Linked DNA regions of Homo sapiens: region 1 is linked to region 2. The links come from fine-mapping of genetic effects on gene expression. A gene starts in region 2. The other region holds a variant in brackets. All regions are shown on one strand. Distances are between the middles of the regions.

What was found. PIP is the estimated chance that this variant, and not a neighbour inherited with it, causes the effect. A credible set is the group of variants that fine-mapping cannot tell apart.
Region 1: its variant is the best candidate, but not a certain one, in a credible set for the expression of TLK1 in whole blood (TOPMed, PIP 0.87).

The regions. Positions count from the first base shown.
Region 1 is chr2:171,105,065-171,110,306 of GRCh38, forward strand. The region is part of intron 2 of TLK1 (tousled like kinase 1); the gene reads right to left. Among named protein-coding and RNA genes, the nearest start is that of TLK1, 53 kb to the right of the region's middle. The variant A/T (reference allele first, on the strand shown) is at 2,330.
Region 2 is chr2:171,158,641-171,163,882 of GRCh38, forward strand. TLK1 (tousled like kinase 1) reads right to left here and starts at 2,253. Exons shown (of 21, transcript NM_012290.5): 1 at 1,650-2,253. The coding sequence starts at 1,788. RefSeq lists silencers at 1,424-1,663, 1,934-2,653, 2,784-2,843 and an enhancer at 1,425-2,069.

The DNA of each region.
Region 1 (5,242 bases), 54 kb before region 2:
AGAGGAAACACTTCAGGGCATTGGTCTAGGTTAAGATTTTATGAAGAAGATCTCAAAAGCACAGGCAACAAAAGCAAAAACAGACAAACTATTATCTCAAACTAAAAAGCTTCTTCACAGCAAAGGAAACAATCATAGAGTGAAGATACAACCTGCAAGAAAGTGATTTGTAAACTATTCATCTGAGAAGGGATTAATATCCAGAATTTACAAGGAACTCAAACAACTCAACAGCAAAACAATAAATAATCCAATCTAAAAATGGGCAAAGACATCTCTTGAAAGAAGTAACCATACAAAAACCATACAAATTTTAACAGGTATATTTAAAAAATGCTTGGCTGGGCGCAGTGGCTCACGCCTGTAATCCCAGCACTTTGGGAGGCTGAGGCGGGTGGATCACTTGAGGTCAGGAGTTTGAGACCAGCCTGGCCAACATGGTGAAACGCCATCTCTACTAAAAATACAAAAATTAGATGAGTGTGGTGGCGTGCGCCTGTAGTCCCAGCTACTCAGGAGGCTGAGGCAGGAGAATCACTTGAAACCAGGAGGCGGAGGCTGCAGTGAGCCCCGAGACTGCGCCAGTGCACTCCAGCCTGGCGACAGAGCGAGACTCCGTCTCGAAAAAAAAAAGACAAAAAATAACAAATACTAGTAAGGATGCAGAGAAAGGGAAACCCTCCTACACTGTTGGTGGAAGTGCGAATTAGTATAGCCATTATGGAAAAAAATATGGAGGCTCCTTAAAAAAAAAGATACAACTACCATATGATCCAGCAATCCTACTACTGGGTATACACAAAGGAAAGGAAATCAGTATGCTGAAGAGATATCTGCATTCCCATGTTTACTGTAACATGATTCATAATAGCTGAAGTATGGAATCAATGTAAGTGTCCATCAACAGACAAATGGATAAAGAAAATGTGGTATACATACACAATGGAATACTATTTCACCATTAAAAAAATTTCTCTCATTCACAGCAACACTGATGAGCTTGGAGGACATTGTTAAGTGAAATTAGCCAGGCACAGAAAGATAAATACTGCATGTTCTCACTCATATGCAGAAACCAAAAAGGCTGATCTTGTAAGTAGACAGCAGAATAGAGGCAGGGAAGAGTAGGCGGGAGGGGACAGCCAACAGTTGATTAATGAATATAGAAGTACAGCTGCATAGGAAGAGTAAGTCCTGGTGTTCTATAGCACTATAGGAAGACTATAATTAACAACAATTTATTGTATATCTTCAAATAACTGGAAGAGCAGATTTCGAATGTTCCTATCACAAAGAAATGATAAATGTTTGAGGTGACAAATATGCTAATTACCCTGATCTGATCATTATGCATTGTCTCTACATGTAATATCACACTGTACTCCATAAATATGTACAATTACTCTATCAATTAAAAACAATAAAAGCAGAAAAACAAAAAATGAAGGTTGTATGTACAGTATCTGTTGCTTGTGCTTACTTCCTTGCTGCTGGCAAATATACTGCTCTATTTTTCTCTAGAAATAAATCAATACTCCTAGATAATGTATTTACCTTTCTACCCGACCCTCTCTGCTAGAGCACCGTTGCTACCAGCAATTTGATCCTTAGAATGTTTTTACTTCCAAATTACAAACTCTTGATGCTACTATCATTAAAATTTGCCTACCTATTAATACTGCATCTCACAAGCACATTATCATCATCACTCTAAACATTACAGGAGTCATTGGTCACAACTGTCATACATTCTGTAGCTTCACCTATATTTTAAAATTACAACTTAAAAGACAAAAGAGTAAAACCAACATTAATTCAGTATCTTCATCCAACATATACCTGTACTTGAATTTTCCCTATTGTCACAAAAACGTCCTTTATAACTGTTTTCCTCCAGTCCAGGTGCAAATCAGGATTCAGATTCACACATTACATCTGATTGCTATGTCTTGTCTCTTTAGCCTCATCCAATCTACAACAATTCCATTTACCTCTCTTTGTTCTTCAAGACACTGAATACTTTGATGAGTCCAGGCCAGTTGTCTAGCAGTGTCCCAGGAGTATTGTCTCATGACTAAATTCAAATCAAATATTTCCAGCATTAAAAACAGAGGTGATTTGTGTAACTCCTACTGCACCACCTTAGGAGGCACATACAATGTCAGATTCTCTGAGATAATATGCCAATGAAAAGTCTGATCTTGCTTATTATGGTGGTGAGAAATGGTGTCCATTTTAGACACATTTCTCTTTTGTAATAACTAATCTATGGGGTAAAACATTAGGACTCTGTAAGTATACTGCTCTTGAAAACATTTTACTAAATGTA[A/T]ATGTCCAATGGAAAACATATGATCCTTGCCTTAATCAATAATTATATTGGGGATGTCAAATGGTGAGTGTTCTGATTCTACATTAGCTGGCATTCTTCTAAGAGACTATTATGTATTATAACAACAAGCATAACTAGCACCTAGATGTTGGTTCCTAAGCACCATTCTTCATTAAAATGAACCAGGAATCCTTGGAGAATGTCTGTTCATATTCAATGCAGAAAAGGACGAGGGAAGCCAGAAATGTCTTGTGTCTGAAAACCAAAGACTGATAAAAGATCTCTAAAGTGACCATGCGAAGGAGTTTCCACTGGCCAAATTTGGGACAATTTGAATTTCAAAGACAATAATGAATTATAACAACAGAATAAAAAAAGGAGCTGGCCAGGCGCAGTGGCTCAGGCCTGTAATTCCACCATTCTGGGAGGCCGACGTGGGCGAACTGCTTGAGCCCAGGAGTTAAATGCCAGCCTGGGCAACATGGTGAGACTCATCTCTAAAAAAAATACAAAAAACTTAGCCAGGCATGGTGGCACTTGCCTATCCAAGCTACTCAGGAGGCTTACGCATGAGGATCACTTGAGCCTAGGAGGCAGAGGCTGCAGTGAGCCGAGATTGCGTCACCGTACTCCAGCCTGGGTGACAGAGTGAGACCCCTCTCTCAAAAAAAAAACAACAACAACAACAACAACAAAAAAACAGGAGCCAGGAGACCACAGCAATACCAGAGAGACACAGTAAAGATGTACATGAACACAAATTAAGCAAAACTGTTTACACCTTTTAAATCTAGATGAAGAATATGATGGCATTCTTTATACTACATTTTCAACTTATCTATAGGTATAGATTATTTTCAAAGTAAAAAGTAATACAAATTTTAAGGGGAACAAACCCACAGGAATGCAGTTTGAGAGAGCATTTTTAGTGTTATAATGACACTCTATACTCATATACTATACACTACACTGAGTATACTGTCATTATAACACTACAATAGAATATGTAACTTTAAAACATCAGGAAAAAAATTCATTTGTCCAATGGAAAACACGTAAAGTACAAGAAGACATTAAGCAATAGATGGCAGAACTGAGTCAGAAAATAACAATAATTACAAAAAATGTAATAAACAAAACTCACCATTTAAGAGAGTCGAATGCTCCTATTGTATCAAAAAACATATGCTGTCTACAAGAAATGCATTTAATTTTTTTTTTTTTAAATGAGACAGGGTCTCACTCTGTCGTCCAGGCTGGAGTGAAGTAGCATGATCTCAGCTCACTGCAGCCTCAACCTCCTGAGCTCAAGTAATCCTCCCAACTCAGCCTCCCAAGAAGCTGGGACCACAGGTGGGTACCACCACGCCCGGCTAATGTTTTGTAGAGATAGGGTTTCATCATGTTGCCCAGGCTGGTCTCGAACTCCTGGGCTCAAGTGATCCACCTGCCCCCGCCTCCCAAAGTGCTGGGATTACAGGCATGAGCCACTACTCCCAGCCCCAAGAAACACATTTAAAAAGAGCAAAAATAAAATAGAAAACCATATACCTAAAACAAACATAAACCAAAAGAAAGCTAAAATTAACAGTAAGTAGTATACAGTCACAAAAAGAATAGAACAAGAGATACACATGTAAAAATACTGCCTCAAAATATATCAAGCAAAAACAAATGAACAGCAAGTAGAAATACATAAATCATCAGTTAAATATTTTAATACATCTCTCTCAGAAAAAGATACGCCAAGTTGACAATGCAAGGAGATATCTAAGATCTGAACAAATACAATTAACAGCTATTAGATATGAAATGTTTCTAAAATAAGGCACATTCAGGGACTGATGTCAGGGACTGATGTCATACAAACTACTTTCCAACTGTAATGCAACAGATTGAAAATCCACAACAAAAAGATAGCTCAAAATATCCTATATTAATAACCCTTGTGTTAAAAAGGAAACAAAGGTAATTATGAAATATACAGATCTGAACATTAATTAAAACAGCACCCATCAAAACTTATGGAACAGTTACAGCAGTTCCTGGAGGGACAGCATTAATCAAGAAACAAGAAAAGTTAAAATAAACGAGCTGATATTACTTCACACCCACTACACTAAAATGAAAAAGAATCACAACAAAATGTCAGGGAGGATGCAGAACAATCAAAGTTCTTATACAGGTACAAACACTTTGGAAATCTGGCAGTTTCTTACCAAGTAAAATATACATCTATCCAGCTAAGTATCTTCCCAAGAGAAATTAAAACATGTTACCAAAACATTTGTACCAAAATGTTTATTGTAACCTTACTCCTAACAGGCAAAATGAAAACATCCAAATACCACTCTACTAAATGCATAACTGTGGTATATCCATACAGTGGAATTCTATTCAGCAACAAAAAGAATTAACTACTAAAACAGCAACAACCTGGATAAATCTCAAAAACACTACATTAAATAAAGGATGCCAGATACAAAAGAATATACTGCATACTTTCATTTACTGTATATGGAATCCAAGTACAGGCAGAACTAATCTGTAGTGACAGAAATTAGATAAGGGTTGGGGGAAAGGGTTTGACAAGAGGGAACTGACTGGAAAGGGGCAGAAGAAAACTCTCTGGAGGGATGGAAGTGTTCTATATTTTGTTTTGTGTGGTATTTACACTGAACAATTTCCAAATCTAAGAGGGGGGAATACGTGAATGGTTATAATACCTTTATTCCTAATTATCAAAACACTGGAAACAACACAAATGTTCCTCATCTAGAAAATGGACTAAAAAGGCCAGGTGTGGTGGCTCATGCCTGTAATGCCAGCACTTTGGGAAGCCAAGGCAGGTGGATTACTTGAAGTCAGGAGTTCAGACCAGCCTGACCAACAGGGTGAAACCCCTTCACTACT
Region 2 (5,242 bases):
AAACAATAAAATGGTCTTTTTAAACTCATAACACTAACATTAAACATCTTAATGAAACTACAAACAAAAGTAAAAGCATGCTAAAAGCAAGCATCAACTTCTCTATGAAATACATTTTAAACCGTTCATTTAAAAATTTTCAAGTGCAAAAGAATCACCAGATATACTAAATTTCTAGTCATTTAATAAATAAACTTCTATATTCTAACAATGAAAGCTCAGCGTTGGGATAAGATGAAAGGGGGAAACGTCTGTCAATGTATTCCGCATGTTTAATGGATCCCATAAATCAAAGCTTTCCGTGAATTTTCTAGAGCATATTCATGCCAATCTTTAAGCCTATTGTCACTTTCACACATGCTCACAGGAACAAAATGACAAAGAATGCTATGCCTGAACCACTGGATTCAGGGCACAAAACACTTGATTAACACTTGTCAAGGCTCTGACTAGCAAATATCGACAGATATTTTCAAAATAAAGTACTCGCACCGATTCCTACATAAATCGAAGCTCTTGATTTCTTTAAAACATTCACTAGACGGTTGAACTTCCAGACATTTGAAAATGTGCCTATCTCCTCGTGTGCGACAACTAGGAGTGAACAGCCCGTCTACCAATTGCGGATGAATACCGCTAAGCTTTTTCCAGACTAAAGAGCGTTAAAAGACATTCCATGCACATTTATTCATTCCCCATAAATGTGTTTTCTCCCAAATTTCATTTTATGTTGTATACTTAGATACAGCAAGTTGAAATTTTAGTCAAAAGCACGCCGGTGCCTTACAAGCTGTGTAACTGCTACATCTGGTGGCAGCCCACTTGCTTGCAAGAAGCCAGAAAACTTAGAAAACAATTGTAACCGATTTGGTGCGTGTTTGCAATAACCTTTACGCAGATATTTCCCACAAAACCCACGACCCTGTCACAGAAGAACAGTAGCCTACTTGCAGCAGAGAATATAACGCACAAACACGCAGGAAGCAACGGCGAAGGAGAGAAAGTTGCAACCATCTGGAGGGGCGGTTTTAAAAGCCTGCCCACGAGTCAGTCTGTCGTTTAAATTGCTCTAGGGGGCCACACAGGGGATCAAAGTCTGCCCAGATAATTTCAGCGTCTCTCCCCAAAGGAGAAACCCAGCAAGCGAGGGGCATCCTCCAGGTCCCGGGCAGCAAAGCTCGCAAAGTGGGGACCGCCTCTATGGGAGGAGTGCGCGGGAGAAGGGGAGGGGGCTCGAGGACGAAGGCTCCAGCGGGAGGGAAAACCCACCAGAGACCGGAGGCCAGGAGGTTAAGAGTACTGAGTGTACTGGCAAATGGAGCAGAAAGGGGCTCGCGTCTGGGGGGAGGCTTCCCACCCTCGCAGGACTGGCTCCCAGGAACCCCAGGCGAGTCTATGCGCCTCGCCCCGTCCCCACCAGCGCGCACCCCCTCGTCCGTCTCCTCCGCCACCCGCGAACCACCATCCACAGCCAGGGCACTACCTCCCCAGAGCCGGGGAGCCGGGCGGCCTCGCGTCCACCTCGCCACCATCCCCCACCCCAGGGTCTGGCGGAGAAGCCCCGGGGCGGGGGGGGCGGGGGGGGGGCGCGGGGGTCCGCGGCGCGGGAGAGGAGGCCCGCGAGCGGGCGCGGGCGCGGCGGTGCTTACCTTCCCTGGGCCTCCCGGATGGCGGCGTGTGATTCAGCAGGGACCTGGCCGCCGCCGCCGAGCCCGGGGTTGGAGACGTGGAGAGCTGGGACCAAGATGGCGGCCCCTCCAAACTTCCACTGCTACTTTGGACACTCATCAAGCTACTTTCTGGGAACCCGACTCCCCCCCTGCGACGGCAGCGGCGGCAACGGCACCGGCACCCGCCTCCGTCATGGCGGGGGCCGCGCTGAGGGCGAGCGAGAGAGCGAGGGCTGGGAGGGGAGAGTCAAGGGGATGGGGGAGGAAACCGAGAAGAGGGGAGGTGGGGAGGAAAGAGGTGAGGGAAGGAGAGGGGACAGGGAGGAGGGAAAGGGGGAGAAGCGAGGGAGCGAGCGGGCGCGCCAGAGGAGAGGAGGAGGAAAGGAGCGCGGCGGCGGAGGCGTCGAGGGGGTGCCAGCCGGGCCGGGGTCGGAGCGCGGGCGGAGCGCGGGCTGCGCCGGCCGAGGACACTTCCGCGGGCGGAACCTGCCGGCACCTCTGCAGTGCGTCGGCCCCCGGCGTCGCCCGGGAGGCGGCGGCGGCGGGCTGTGGGTGGCGGCTGAGGCGGTGGGGTAACCTCTGCATCAGTTACAGGCGGCGGCGGCGTCACGCGCCGCCTGTGCAAACACTATCGCGAGGCTCCTGCGCCTCCGGTAGCGGCGGCGGCGGCGGCGGCGGCAGCGGCGGCCGCGGGAGCAGGCTTGGGGGAGGGACCTGCCAGGGGCTGGGGGGTGGGGGCATGGGGAAGGAGCGAGCGCGCGAGGGAAGAGACTAGAGCGCCGGGGCGCCCCTGCCGCACCCGCGGATCGCCGCGCGGCGCGGGAGCCCGGGGTTGCCGGACTCGCGTGCGCGGGGGCAGCGTCCCCGCGCCGGCCGGAGGGAGGCGCGCCCCCGCCGCGCCGCTCGGGCTCCAGCGCCGCTGCCACCTGACTCCCCCTGTCTCCCGCGGAAGCGCGCCTCTCTCCTGACCCACACCCAACACGGGGAGAAATGCTGCTGCTCTCGCTCAGCTGCCGCTTCTCGGGAGTTCAATGTGATCGTTTCTCAAAATGGAACTGAAAAGTTGAGAGTTCCTTCTTTCTTGCCCCTCTGTACTGTGCAGAAAAACGTATGTGCGCCTCCCCGTCTGCAGAATGGGAATAATGACCGAATAAAAGAGCTATGAAAATAAACATGGGTAGTGGGAGAGTTGGGAAATAAAACTTTCTCGTGTTTTCTAAAAAAGAGTGAAGAATCTTTAATGAGGAAATTGAAAATTACCAGTTTTGTAGACTGTATGGTATAGCAATTCTTTGTTTTAAAACAGTAAGTGGAAAATCTAAATGAAAAATGTGATTACTGAATCACATATTTAGGAAAACTATACAGCGTTCATCTTGCAGAAGGTATGGTTTCTAGAAACTTATAATTTGTTTCTAGTGTCTCCGCTGAGTCCCGACTACAAAAATCCCAAAATAAATAACAGCATTTGCTAAAATTTATAGATAGAGTGTAGCTTTCTACAGACCCACACAAGTATACTCACACCAGGGATTGGGCTTCTTGTACATAAAAGAGCACTCTAGTTCAGGAAAAGTACAACAAGGTTATTTCTCTCTTTAGAAAACCAAATTGAATAGAGCACTAAAAAGATTATGATATAGCGCTACTGCACAGACAAGAGGAAATGGCATGATTACCAGGGGGACAAAAATGTCGTTTCTATTTTTTATTTTTATGACTTCGCATTTCTCATAGTAATGTTTTGTTCAGATAAACTATCATACTAGAAAAGAACCTTGATTGTCAGTTATCTCCAGAAGTAATTGTAGTTGCCTTGTGCTTTAGATACTTCAGTGAGTTTTTAGTCTTGTCTGCTTTTCAAACTTAAGAGGGACATCTCACAAACAACTTTATTGAGGTATAATTGACAAAATAAACTGCACATATTTAAAGTGTACAATTATTGGCCAGGTGCGGTGGCTCACGCCTGTAACCCCAGCACTTTGGGAGGCCGAGGTGGGCGGATCACGAGGTCAGGAGTTTGAGACCAGCCTGGCCAACATGGTGAAACCCCATCTCTACTTAAAATACAAAAATTAGCCGGGTGTAGCGGCACGCGCCTGAAGTCCCAGCTACTCGGGAGGCTGAGGCAGGAGAATCGCTTGAACCCGGGAGGCAGAAGTTGCGGTAAGCCTAGATCGCAACGTTGCACTCCAGCCTGGGCGACAGAGCGAGACTCCTAGACTCTGTCTCAAAAAAATAAAAATAAAGTGTACAATTTGATAAGTTTTGATGTGTATACCTCCCTGAAACCACTTCTACAAGGAAGATGGTGAATGTATCTATCACCCTCCAAAGTTTCCTCTTTGTGGTTCCTCCTCCACACTACTTCCATTCTCTCCAACCACAGATCTTTCTGTCATATGGGTAGCTTTCCATTTCATAGAATTTTAGATAAATGCAGGCCATACAGTCAATTTGTACTCTTGTCTGGCTTTGGTTTTGTTTTTTGTTTTTTGTTTTTGAGACAGAGTCTTACTCTGTTTTGCCCAGGCTGGAGTGCCATCTCGGCTCACTGCAGCCTCCGCCTCCCGGGTTCAAATGATTCTCCTGCCTCAACCTCCTGAGTAGCTGGAATTACAGGCACGTGCCACTACATCCAGCTAACTTTGTATTTTTAGTAGAGATGGGGTTTCACCATGTTGGCCAGGCTGGTCTCAATCTCCTGACCTCAGGTGATCCGCCCACCTTGGCCTCCCAAAGTGCTGGGATTACAGGCCTGAGCCACCGTGCCAGGCCTTGTCTGGCTTCTTTCACTCGACATTATTTTTTTGAGAGATTCGTCCACATTGTTGCATTATCAATAGTTTGTTTTTATTTTTAAGTAGTATTACACTGAATGAGTGTACCACACTTGTTTATCCATTAAACTATTGATGGACATTTGCATTGTTTTCACTTTTTGGCTGTTACGAATAATGCTGCTAAGAACATTCATGTACAAGTCTTTCTGTGGACATAGGCTTTCCTTTCCCTTGGATACATACCCAGGATCTTGCCATTCGATTTTTATACCTAAATACATGCACTATAAGAGGAACAGAGTTTCTGTAATGACATGTTGATAAATGTATGCTCTTTCTGTATTTTTAAGAGTAAGCTTAGTCAGCAGATTGCGGTGAAAAGAACATGGGACAGGAAGGAAGTTAAGAGACCTGAGTATTAGTCTCAGCAGGTAACTTGATTCAATTTCCTCATCTACGAGAAAGAGGTTAGAGTCACTGAGTGATTTTTAAAGCTCCTACCAATTCTGAGACTGTACAGAGCTCAGTTCCTCTCAAAAATGGTAAACAAAGCCCAACCAAAAAGGTTTGATGATGGTAGGTTATCTTTCTCCCAACCTTCTCCAGAGCTTCAAGTTTTTAAGTTATCCTTATGCCAATTCATAGTACTTTTTTTTTTTTTAATTGTCACCCAGGCTGGAGTGCAGTGGTGCAATCTTGGCTCACTGCAACCTCTGCTTCCCAGATTCAAGGAAGTCTCATGCCTCAGCCTCCTGAGTAGCTGGGACTGCAGATGCCTATCACAAT